Homo sapiens: one gene and its partners. The protein of the gene in region 1 purifies or fractionates together with the protein of each later gene. This does not show direct contact. Each region holds a gene or a part of one and is shown in the gene's direction. Other genes may lie near its edges. The genes, in order: FRMD3, FAM234B and COLEC12.

The links.
Region 2: the proteins of FRMD3 (region 1) and FAM234B purify together in Homo sapiens (affinity purification with mass spectrometry; 2 studies listed by BioGRID and IntAct, with this or other methods). This does not show direct contact.
Region 3: the proteins of FRMD3 (region 1) and COLEC12 purify together in Homo sapiens (affinity purification with mass spectrometry; 2 studies listed by BioGRID and IntAct, with this or other methods). This does not show direct contact.

What each region holds. Positions count from the first base shown.
Region 1 is NC_000009.12:83,307,829-83,311,482, reverse strand, and holds part of FRMD3 (FERM domain-containing protein 3), read left to right. Parts: intron 1-934; coding exon 935-998; intron 999-1,858; coding exon 1,859-1,947; intron 1,948-3,654. UniProt on the Homo sapiens protein: Putative tumor suppressor gene that may be implicated in the origin and progression of lung cancer.
Region 2 is NC_000012.12:13,057,843-13,061,496, forward strand, and holds part of FAM234B (protein FAM234B), read left to right. Parts: intron 1-608; coding exon 609-707; intron 708-3,654.
Region 3 is NC_000018.10:490,649-494,302, reverse strand, and holds part of COLEC12 (collectin-12), read left to right. Parts: intron 1-3,654. UniProt on the Homo sapiens protein: Scavenger receptor that displays several functions associated with host defense. Promotes binding and phagocytosis of Gram-positive, Gram-negative bacteria and yeast.

The sequences.
Region 1 (3,654 bases):
CCTTTGTTATCCAGTGTATCCGTGAAGATGCTTTTGGCAAAAGGTAGTAGGAATGTCTACTCATGATGGCTTACAAATAAGAGGACTAATCAGCTCACAGAGCAAACGTGGAGCAGTTCCCTGGTCTGTTAACTTAACTGCCTATTAACTTAAATGCCGGGAAGGATTTAGGTCTCTGTTTTTTTTTTTTTTTTTCTCTGCCATTCTCAGTCAGGCGCATTGGTCCTGAGGCTCCTGCTCCTGAGATGGGCATGTGCGGGACTGGCCTGCACATCTCCCCATGGCAATGCCCGGAGCCTGGAGGAGAGCAGCCCCTTCCATGTGTCTCCTTTTCAAACAAGGATAATTTTTTAGAAGCCCTGTAGGAGACTTCCTGTATACCTAATTGGACAGAATTGGGTCACATGTTTCTATTTAAACCGGTCCTTGCTGAAAAGAATGGGAACTCCAATATATAAGAACACAATTCTTTTGTAAACAGGGAAAACAGGAGTGAACATTTTGCAGTGCAGTGGATTTGCTTCTTGGAAATGGATGCAGAAGGAGGAGAAAGTCAGATACTGTGAATCCGCATCATTTCATTAACTGAATCTGAAATCACCACGTTCTTCCCACCTTGCTAAGTGGGCTGGGCAATTAATATTGTTCTGATCATTAATGTTCACGAACACTAGAGCTTCTTGGAAGAACGATGCAGCCTGACTGTAAATAATAGAATAAATAATTCTGAGCTCTGTGCGGATCCTCTCTTGGGAAGAGAATTGCTGTATAATTCACTCGAGGCTTTTCACTGCCCATTAGACCTTCACCAATGATAATACCTTGTTTCACTGCAATCTGCCTGGCATTTTTGAGTCAGATTCCTATGGGAAACCCAGGTACCTTGGTTAGCTGCCACTTTTTTTCTTCTTACCCAGAGATTTTCTTTTCTTAGGCCAGATGTCTGCAAATTGAAGTTTGAAGGGAAGACATTTTATGTGATTGGCACCCAGAAGGAGGTCAGATACTGCTTTTTTTTAACTGCCTGTTATTGTGTGTGCATGAGAGAGATTCAGGAGTAAAATATGCCTTTAGTATTGTAGTCGCCAAAGACCATGACTTTGAAGTGTATGGTGATAATGAAAGCTATATGCTAAAAATATTTTAGAGGCAAACAAATGAGTACTGGGTTTGTACATTGAACAATAAAGTCAGTAAGCAATGCTGATTGTACACCCCCATGTGCAAAACAGACTGGGATAGACTTTGGAAATAAAAGATGGAACCTCTCCCTACCTCTTTTTGCCAAGATACAGACATGTGAAACAAATAAAGAATACTTACAAAGCTAAATATTCAACAACCAGTGCTCATTAGAGTGTTATAAACAGAGCCTATTAGTCCAGAGAGTCTTAAAACAAGGGAGTTACTAGATATAGATTGTGGATTCACCAGGGAATGCATTTGTGCGGAGACCATTAACAAAATATTAAGCCTCAGAGGTAGCTCTAGAAATTTGCGGGTTTTCTTGTCATGAGTTTTCAGCCCAAGTACTAGTTCCTCAAGGATGGCAAATATGTTTTTAGGCTAATTCCAGTGTGACAGAGAGGTAGATGATGCCTGGAGTGTTGAGAAGCATTGTGAGGCTGATTTTGATCAGAAACAGGTCCTAGATACATTAGTGATATCTGCAAAGGGTGAGGGAGGGGTGAATACCATGTTAATAACACTGTAAATAACATAGCAATATGTTAAGTTACTTCAAGTCTGTGTAATAGGAGATAGGATACAAAGAGGTAAACACCTGAAAAAAAAAAACCCATGGAAAATGTAAATGGTATTTTACGTGCCTTTTCTTGTTTTGTTATTTTTTAATTAGAAAAAAGCCATGTTGGCATTCCATACTTCAACACCAGCTGCCTGCAAACATCTTTGGAAGTGTGGAGTGGAAAACCAGGCCTTTTATAAGTAAGTGGCTTTTATTCATTTAATTATAGCTTTTAAAAGCACCCATGGAATTCTTTATGTTTTGCAAATGGCTGCATATTTATTTCTTTTAATACAGTTTTAAAAGTTATATTTAAGTAAATTAAAATTTTGTGCATTGTTCAGGGTGACTCCCGGTGATTGTTGGCTTGTTGGCCTGACCGAGTTCTGAGCTCTATGTTGGATGTTTCCTGTGGAATGGCTGTGGGCCACTGTGTGTGTGTGTGTGTGTGTGTGTGTGTGTGTGTGTGTGTGTGTATTTCAAATAGCTATTTCCACAAAATATGTCACAGGATCAATTTTTGGTTGCCCTCCTCCCCCCACCCCCACAAAGCAGACCTTGAGATAGTTTGGTACAAGTAGCTTATTTGGGATGTAATCAATGGACATACCAGTAGGGGAGTGGTGGGGGGTGGTGAGATGGGGAAGCAATATAAGATGCATTATTGAGCAGGTCACTACTGTGGACAACTGGGCTCAGATCTTCTTAGGAACTCTGGGACATGGTATAATATGCCTCACAGTTCTCCTGCTGATGGGCAAAGAGGTGGGGCTGTTTATCTACCAATTCGCCATTTATTTTGGTTGAAGCCTGCTTTGGGGGCCAGAATTAATACTCTCTGATATTTCTGGCTTACTCTGAGTATGGGTTGGATGTGCTTTCACAACCAGAAAAAGAGACCTCTGGCAGAGAGTCACCTGTGTTCATAGTAAGAAGGCTTCAGTGTATTGAAAATAGAGCCAAAGGTTTATGGGTGGAATGCTGTCAGAGCCTAGGATCATAGAAAGTAGGTGCTGGACAAGACTTCAGAAACCATCTGTAAAGCTCTCAGGTTTCAAAAGAAGTTCAAACTGAGATCTGTGCATGGAGTTACACCTTCTTCTCTGAGAGACGCTTGCTGACTGGAAAGGCAGTGGTAGTGGATGCAACTAAGAACCTAGTCCAGCCCTGCTCAGGCCATCAGCACTGTACACCCCTGGACCTCATCCAGGTGGCTTTTGATCAGTCCCCCTGCCCCTTACAGTGAGATTCTGTCTTCCTGATTAGACTCATCTCCCTGAAAATGCTGTCTCTGAACCTCCTGGGCTTTGGCTGATGAGAACCATCAGGAGAATGATGGCTTGGATAATGATTTTGAAACCAGTTTCGGCCACAGAATACTTTTCCTTAATCTGAAGTATAGGCAAAGTCCAGCATGTAAAGGAGATAAAAAGAGAAGTTGTGGTGGTAGATGGGGCCTTGGATGGGATTGGAGATTGAAGGGTCTTTGCCCATTGTTCATTGCTTTTCAGGAGCTTGGGTGACCAGTTGTCCAGGTTGCCTATGCCTTTCCTAAGTTTAGCACTGACATCCCCATGTCCCAGGAAACCCATCAGCCCTGGGAAAACCCAGGAGCATAATTTGAACACCACTGGGTGAGATGACGCACAAAATGCTGTGCTAGGAATGATTGGAGAAGGTGATGTGTACCAGTAGACCTTCCTGTGACCACCACCACCTCAAGGTCTTTGTGTGCCTCCTGCATGTTTGGGGACTGATAAGGAAGGAGACCAGTTGGCCTTCGGAAAATCTACATGTCTAGAAGCCTTCACCCACATGAGAGTTCAGAGAGGGAAACACAGAGGGTTTGATGCTCTCAGTCTTTAGTTGGAGCCTTAGTGATTTTTTATTTTGTTTTAAAAAAAATT
Region 2 (3,654 bases), on another chromosome or scaffold:
GACAGTCCTTGCCCCCACCTGGCTTTCTCTGACATGACCCTGATGGTGGTGGTGGTGGTGGGGTACCTTGTTACATCCAGGAGAGGGTGGGAGCCAGGCTCCACATTCAGCCTTTGCTATATGAGTGGGTGGAGCTGGGCTGATAATTTTATCTGTTTGGTTGGAGTAGAGCAGTTATTATCTACAACTTTCCTGTCTTGCTGGACTGCACCTTTCCTGGGCTTTTGGCTAGGGAAGGCAGCCTTTTCTGGGGCTTTTTTTGTCTGTATCTGTGGTGTTTCTGGGTTGCTGGCTTTTCCAGCACCCTATCTGGGTATTATGAGGCCAAAAGAAAACCCAGGGGACTCATCACCTTGTCATTCCTTGGGTCTTGCAGTCCCTAGCTGGTCTGCTTCCTTCTCTCTGCCTTTTAGAGTTGTCTTATGTTTGTTTTATGTACAGTGTCCAGGGCTTTTCCATGCACTTAGCAGGGGGAGTAGGGAGAGGTGTGTCTACTATACCTAGTCGAGGAACTGGAGTCTGCCTGGTGTTTATAGAGCTACTGGCAACAGAGAACTGGTTTGTGGTAACTTGCTCAGGACCTTTTTGGTTTTTTATGTGTATAACAGGTGGGGACCTGTCTCCATTGGAATTGGCTGATGTGAATGGAGATGGCCTGCGTGATGTGCTTCTCTCCTTTGTGATGTCAAGGAACGGGAGTGCAGTAGGTAAGAGACGTGTTTTTTTCAAGGCTGCTACAGGGGCACTGTCAGCTAGGAGAAAACATCAGAGCTGTGTCCCAAGTGGTACTGCAGAGAAGGATCTGCAGTGAACAGAAAGTTACCATGGTTCTGGCATACATGAAAACCCTCATCAGAAAGCTTCCACATATAAATAAAGCTCAGTCTAAGAAATCGGAGGGAGTTAGAGCTGGAAGGAATTTTTAGTGGTGACCAGGCCAGTGAAGAAACTGTGATGCAGAGAGGAAGTGACTTGTCCACACACTTTGCAACGAACAGTGTTAGTCCTCGGGTTCCTTGGGTTTTCTCCTGGTTTTCCATTGCCTCTTAGATTATAGTGAACATTGACTTTATGCTACCCTCCTATCCCTGGAAGAAAACTTTTGTTCATAGACTTATACATCTTTACACAAATACCTCTTGGCCGGGTGTTTTCCTTTCCCCCTTCAGTTTACACTTGTAGACCTGCTGTCCATCCTGCTCTCTGCATGGGGAAGCTGAGCTGTATGGATGGTATCAACAGGCTTCCTTGCCTGCTGGTCTCCTTTCAATGGGGAGCACAGCTCAGGAATGGGAGGGGAGTAAGAGTGTGAGGGGAGGTATTCACTCCCCTGGCTCCCTCCCCGCCGGGGTCACTGCAGAATGGCTGCTACAGCCTTGACCCTGGGTCACAGCTCGTTTCAAGGTGGCCCTCCTATAGGACTTTCCTTTTCTGGATTCCAGTAATTGCGTCCTCTCCTTGTGTCTTTGTTGGGGAGCCTAACAGTTCTGAGGGTCTGCACTATCACTTGTGGTGTTTCTACATGCTGGCCACATCTTTGTGAATAGTCTCCTTAAGAAACCGTCCACAACTTACCCTCATTTAGGGTGCTGTTTCTGGGATCCCAGCTTTTACACATGTCAGCTGTAGAAAAAGAAAAAATGCGTTCTGATTTCAGCCTAAGTACACAAGGCTTTTGGTTGATCCTGCAGCCTCCACTACAGTGGAGTCAAACTGCAGCCTGTGAGCTGATGCAGGGACCTAGTTTGATGCTGAGGATGCCCTAGTGACTGCTTTTAAGTCGTCTAGGCCTTGGAATACATGTCTAGGTGTGTTTTAGAGAATTCTAAACCACATCTCTTACATTAGTAGGAGTGGCTTTCTGAGGCCCACATGAGATGTGGAAGCAATCTGGGTGGAGATCTGCTGTAGAGAGCATCTCCAGCCTAGGAGTAGATTTCCGTGCAATCAAAACTTGATTACACTTTTCCTGCCCGTGACTTCTGAAGTAAAAATCTTCCCCATCTACTTAGATTTAGAGATGTTTTTAGTCATTTGGTATCTTACGTAGTTTGCTTCATACCAAGACTCATAATGGCAAGGCCATGGGTTTGGACACAATATGGACCAGGCTGATTTGGCCACAGACTGTACAAATAAGGATATAGCGAACATATGGTGCTTTCTATGTGTTAATACACCATTGTCAGCACATAACGTATGAAGGAATTTATCCTTCCACACAGTCCTGTGAAGTAGACCCATTATTATCCCCCTTTTGCACATGAGGAAGGTGAGACGTTGTGAGGTTAAAGAACTTGCCCAGTCCTACTGCTGGTAAATGATAGAGCTGGGGATTCGGATCCAAGGAGTCTGGCTCTGGAGTTCATGTCCTTGACCCTCATGCCAAGCTGCTGTGCCCATAACCCACAAAGCTTTGTGCTACTGGACACAGAGGGATTGAGTTTTTTGTCTATTCACTTGTTCCTTCATTCAGCAACTGTGTGTTGATACTAACTGTGCGGCAGCCACTCTGCACCTTCTCTAGAGTTCTGATGGTTACACACAGACTGCCGAACAAGAGGAGCCTGGCTTTGGCCTCGAGAAGTCATAGTCTAGCAGGAAGGGGTAATCCATCACCATCTGGGAAAAGACGAGTCAGAGCATTGTAGGATGGAGTAGGGTCCTCCAGTAGGAAGAACCACACAGGATAGGGATCCTAGCACCTTTGAGAAGCCTGGAAGTTACCATATACCACCTCTGTTTGTCATATATATCTTCTGGCAACAGGGTCTGAAACAGCCAGCCATTGTTTGTCACTTGTTTTTAGGTTGTATATTCAATTAGTCGTGCTGAGGAATAGGTAGAAGGAAGCTCTAAAAGTTTTGTTTCCTTATCCATATTAGTTGTTGCTGAAAGTGGGAACTGTATGAAATGAGTCACGTGTCCCTATCCTGAGAGTGAATGTGAAACTGACAAGGGAGAAAGTTCTGAGTCTGATGTAGTAATTAAGTGACATAAAGGCTTATTTACTAAGGATCATGGCTACTCTAATCCCTTACCAGCTGTACTTGGATCTAGGTATTAGGTCTTCCCAAATATTTTTTCCTGACTGGGACCAAATCAATTGATTCCAGAGAACTCTAGACTAGCAAGACCCACTCATCATTGCTATATGTAATCTTCAAGTTTATTTTTTCAAAAAAGAAAATATTTTTCTGCTCTCAGGAAGCATTTATTAGTGATGATTAGAATTCAGGTATTTTGCTCCCCGCGCTGCACACGTTCTGGATCAGTCTCATGTTTCCGAGCATATCTTTTCCTCCTGGTTTTTTGTTCTTAACTACTTTTTCGCATTCTTGATTTTGCTCCTGTCTCTTATTAGGCAAACAGTCGGTTGCTGTAGGTACAGAGATTAGTGAGACAGTCTTTCTCCTTAAGGATATCACCATTTAGTTGGGGCCGAGGTGGCAGACATGTAAAGAGTAGTGTTGGGAAAGGTGCAGAAGTGGAGATGCATTCGACAGTGTAGAGGAGGCCACAGCTCTTGTCTTACATGAGAAGCGTGTTCAGCAAAGATGACAGGCACTCTGTGTTCACATCTTGCTGCCAGAAGTGTGAGAGGGAGCTGAATACACAAGTGTGGTTGCTGCCTTACCACCATCCACTTGCAGT
Region 3 (3,654 bases), on another chromosome or scaffold:
TTAATCAGTGATGTAGTTTAGACCATGAAGGCAAATGTTCAGTTCTGAAATGAAAGTAATTTTCAAATTGCAAATGTGTTAAAACAGACCTCAGGGATAGAAGGAGTGAGTTGTGCTCCACGTGGGGAAGTATTAGTATTGGTTGCATTCCAGCTGCCGTCACTGCTATCATCATAAAAAATGCAGGGATAATTCCCAAAGTGAAGTTTGTAATTGTAGTAATGAAACAGTTTTTCTATTTGTTATAGTAGTGGTAGAAAATTGATAAATATGTGTAAGTATATTTAGATTACCTAGGAGCACTGTTTTTTTTTTAGTACTATTGCTCACGTGCCTACTGATGACATGATATTTTTAAAGATCTGTGTTTCAAATCCAGTGTCCGGTTTTATCCAGTAAGGATATGACATCAAGGAATCACAACATTAAACAAGTTTGTCTCTAAATAAGTATTCGGACAGATGTATGTATAAGTATGTTTTTAAACCATATGATGTCATGTCTATTTCATCAGTAGTATTAGTTTTCCATTAAGCTGTCATATTTCTGTTTTATTATTTATAATTGGGCCACCAAGTTCTAACTAGCCTTCATTTATTCTTTAAACAAATATTTGGTATTAACTTTCTGTGTGCAAGGCCCTCTAGAAATGCCAAATAAAATGAATAAAATATAGCTTCTGTGCTCATGGAGCTTGCAGTCTGGTAGACAAGACAAGACTTATGCGTAAACAACTGGAATCCAAAGTAGAGAGTAGAACATGCCCTGTTTGAGGTTCAGATAATCTGGCTGAAGACAGGGACATTTTCATTTGCAGGAGAGATTTGAATTATAGTTCATATTTCAGATTACATTATATTTCATATCTTGAATTATATTTCATATTACATTAATAGGGCAAGCAACATTAAAGAAAAATGTCTTAAAAGAGAGGAGGGCTGAGCCTGATGACTCGTGCTTATAATTTCAGTGCTTTGGGAGGCCAAGATGGGAGGGTTGCTTGAGGCCAGGAGTTTGAGATCAGCCAGATCAACACAGCAAGATCCTGTCTCCACAGAAAATTTAATGGGTGCGGTGGTGAGTGGCTATAGTCCCAGCTACTTGGGAGACTGAGGTGGGAGGATCCCTTGAGCAGTGGCACAGTCTTGGCTCACTGTAACCTCTGTCTCTTGGGTTCGAGCGATTCTCCTGCCTCAGCCTCCCAAGTAGCTGGGACTGAGTACAGGTGCGTGCCACCATGGCCAACTAATTTTTGTATGTTTTGTAGAGACAGGGTTTTGCTATGTTGCTCAGGCTCGTCTCAAACTCCTAGCCTCAAGTGATCTGCCCGCCTCAGCCTCCAAAGTGCTGGGATTACAGGCATGAGCCACCGTGCCTGACCTGAAATCTCTTAAGTGTGACATTTCAGTGTGGGAGGTGAGAGGAAACCAAATTCAGAGTCTTCTTGAATTGTGTCTCTTAAACTCAAAACGTTGGTCCAACATTTGTAAATAATTATAGTATATTGCTTTGGCATAATTGTTTAGATAATCTAAACAACGTTAATGGATTTCAAAACAAAAAGACGTATCGGTGTTATTTTTAAACCAAAGACCTCTTTTTTTTTTTGTCTCCAGAGAAATGGACAGCATTAGTTTTTCTTGCCAAATCACCCATGTATTTGAGGCCCTGCCAAGGCCCTTATTCAATTTAAGGCAGAGATTCAAGGCCTCATTCTGACTCTCTTATTAACATGATTAAAATGACTGGATGAGAATTTTCCTCATAGAAGAAAGGGAAGTGCATCACCTCCACCATAATCACCTATGAATGATGAATGCAGATGTCAAGGTTTTGGATGTCGTACTTACTGATTACTTCTAAGTTCTTGCAGTTGGTGGCTGTGGGGAAATCTGATTTAGCCCCCACTGCCAACTTAGGGGTAAAAGTAACAAAAACACCCTTTCTCAGTTTTGTTAGACTGTAAAGGAAGGAATAGGGTACCCATGCCTCTTTATTCTAAAAGCAAGTATCTGCCATTTTTACAAGCATCAGAATTGCAAGTTGTGCCAGAAATTGGAGTCATTTTATGTCTATAATTTTGACTTTTGACTTGAAAAAACTGTGCAATTGAATCAAAAGTGATCCCATTGTTGCAAAACAAATTCAGTAAGCAGCTGAGTAATCAAAATGAATCTCCTGTGATACTTTAAAATAATCTACAAGTATTTAAACTGCTACAGATTCCTTCATCCATTTGGAGTGAAACAGTTGAATGGAAGGCCGATCTAATTACCCCCCTACAAAATATCCTGAACCTCAGATACTTTGTTACGCTGCATTGAGTTCATTCACCAGGAGAATACATAATAACTGTGTTCCAGAAATGCCAAGACTGGAAAAAGGAAACCATGCGGGGAGCCAGGTTTACATTTGTAAAGCTATAAAACCAGGGCAAATATTACCGATACTGTGCTTAGGGACATATCAAGATAAAAGGACACCTTTCTTCAGTTTTTACAGCCCAAAATACGTTAAGATAAATTTTCATCAATATCAACCAGGTACTTCAGTGCCAATTTGCTGAAGCCCAAATAGAACCTGCAGCACGCATTACTCTTTTGCTCATCAAGCTTTCCTGTTGGTCCTTCCCCCAAATAGTCACCTCAGAATGGAGTTTTGTGTCTTTTGAAGCCAGATGATTAAAGTTCTAGGATATTTATTTTGGACCTTAAGGCATAGTAGCTTTTACCACTGCCTCTGTCCTCTTACTTCAAAGAAAATTCATATTTATTAAGCAGATGGTATGTGTTGGATGTTTTCCATGTGTCAGTTCACATTTCCCTCCCCAAAATGTGTGAGATAGGAATCATTGGTTCCAGCTTATAGGAGACTGAGAGGCAGACATGAGCTTATTGCTATTACAAGGTGGAGCCAGTCTTCAAACCCAGGTCTTTGAATTTCAAAGCCCACACATTACCATTAATTCTATCAGCCTCTGGTGTTAGGAAAGAAGTCTTCCAGATATCACAGCAACATCAAGGGGACATTCCAAATATTTAGCAACCCAGGTGACACACTGTGGAAGCCACCATTCCCATATGAAAGCAACTCCTTGGAGCACTGGTCAGTGGAGAGTGACTGTAGACTCAGGGGTCCTGATGGCCCCAGGGATACAGGGGCAAGGACCTGCTACAGTGGGTGGTGGTGACAGTAGAAACAGGGACAGCTTGCAGAAATGCTCAGAGCAGAGGCCATTGTTCTTCAACCAGCTGGTTTGGAAGCACTTAAATATTTTAACAACCAGTGATACCATACCATTTTGTTCTAAGAGTAATGACAAATGTACAAGAGCTGGGAATGGACCCTGGTCTAAACACGATAGAGCAACCAATGGGTACTCATATGTAGACAGCGCCAGTGGGCCAGCATGGAAGAGAAGTCTAACTTCAGCCTAGTCCCTGTCCACGGTCCTTCAGGCTGGCTCCTAAAAATGTCTGCATTTGCTATGATGTTTGGTTTGGCATTTGTTGGAAACCTGCTTTGTGTCAAGTATTGAAGGCTCCAGCTTCAAACTGCGTCTTCTGTGGTTTCAGGTTGAACTCCACACTCTGGCTCTTTGGGGGCATTTTCTGGTTATCTGGTTATCAGTGCTGGTTATCTGTTGGACCTGAA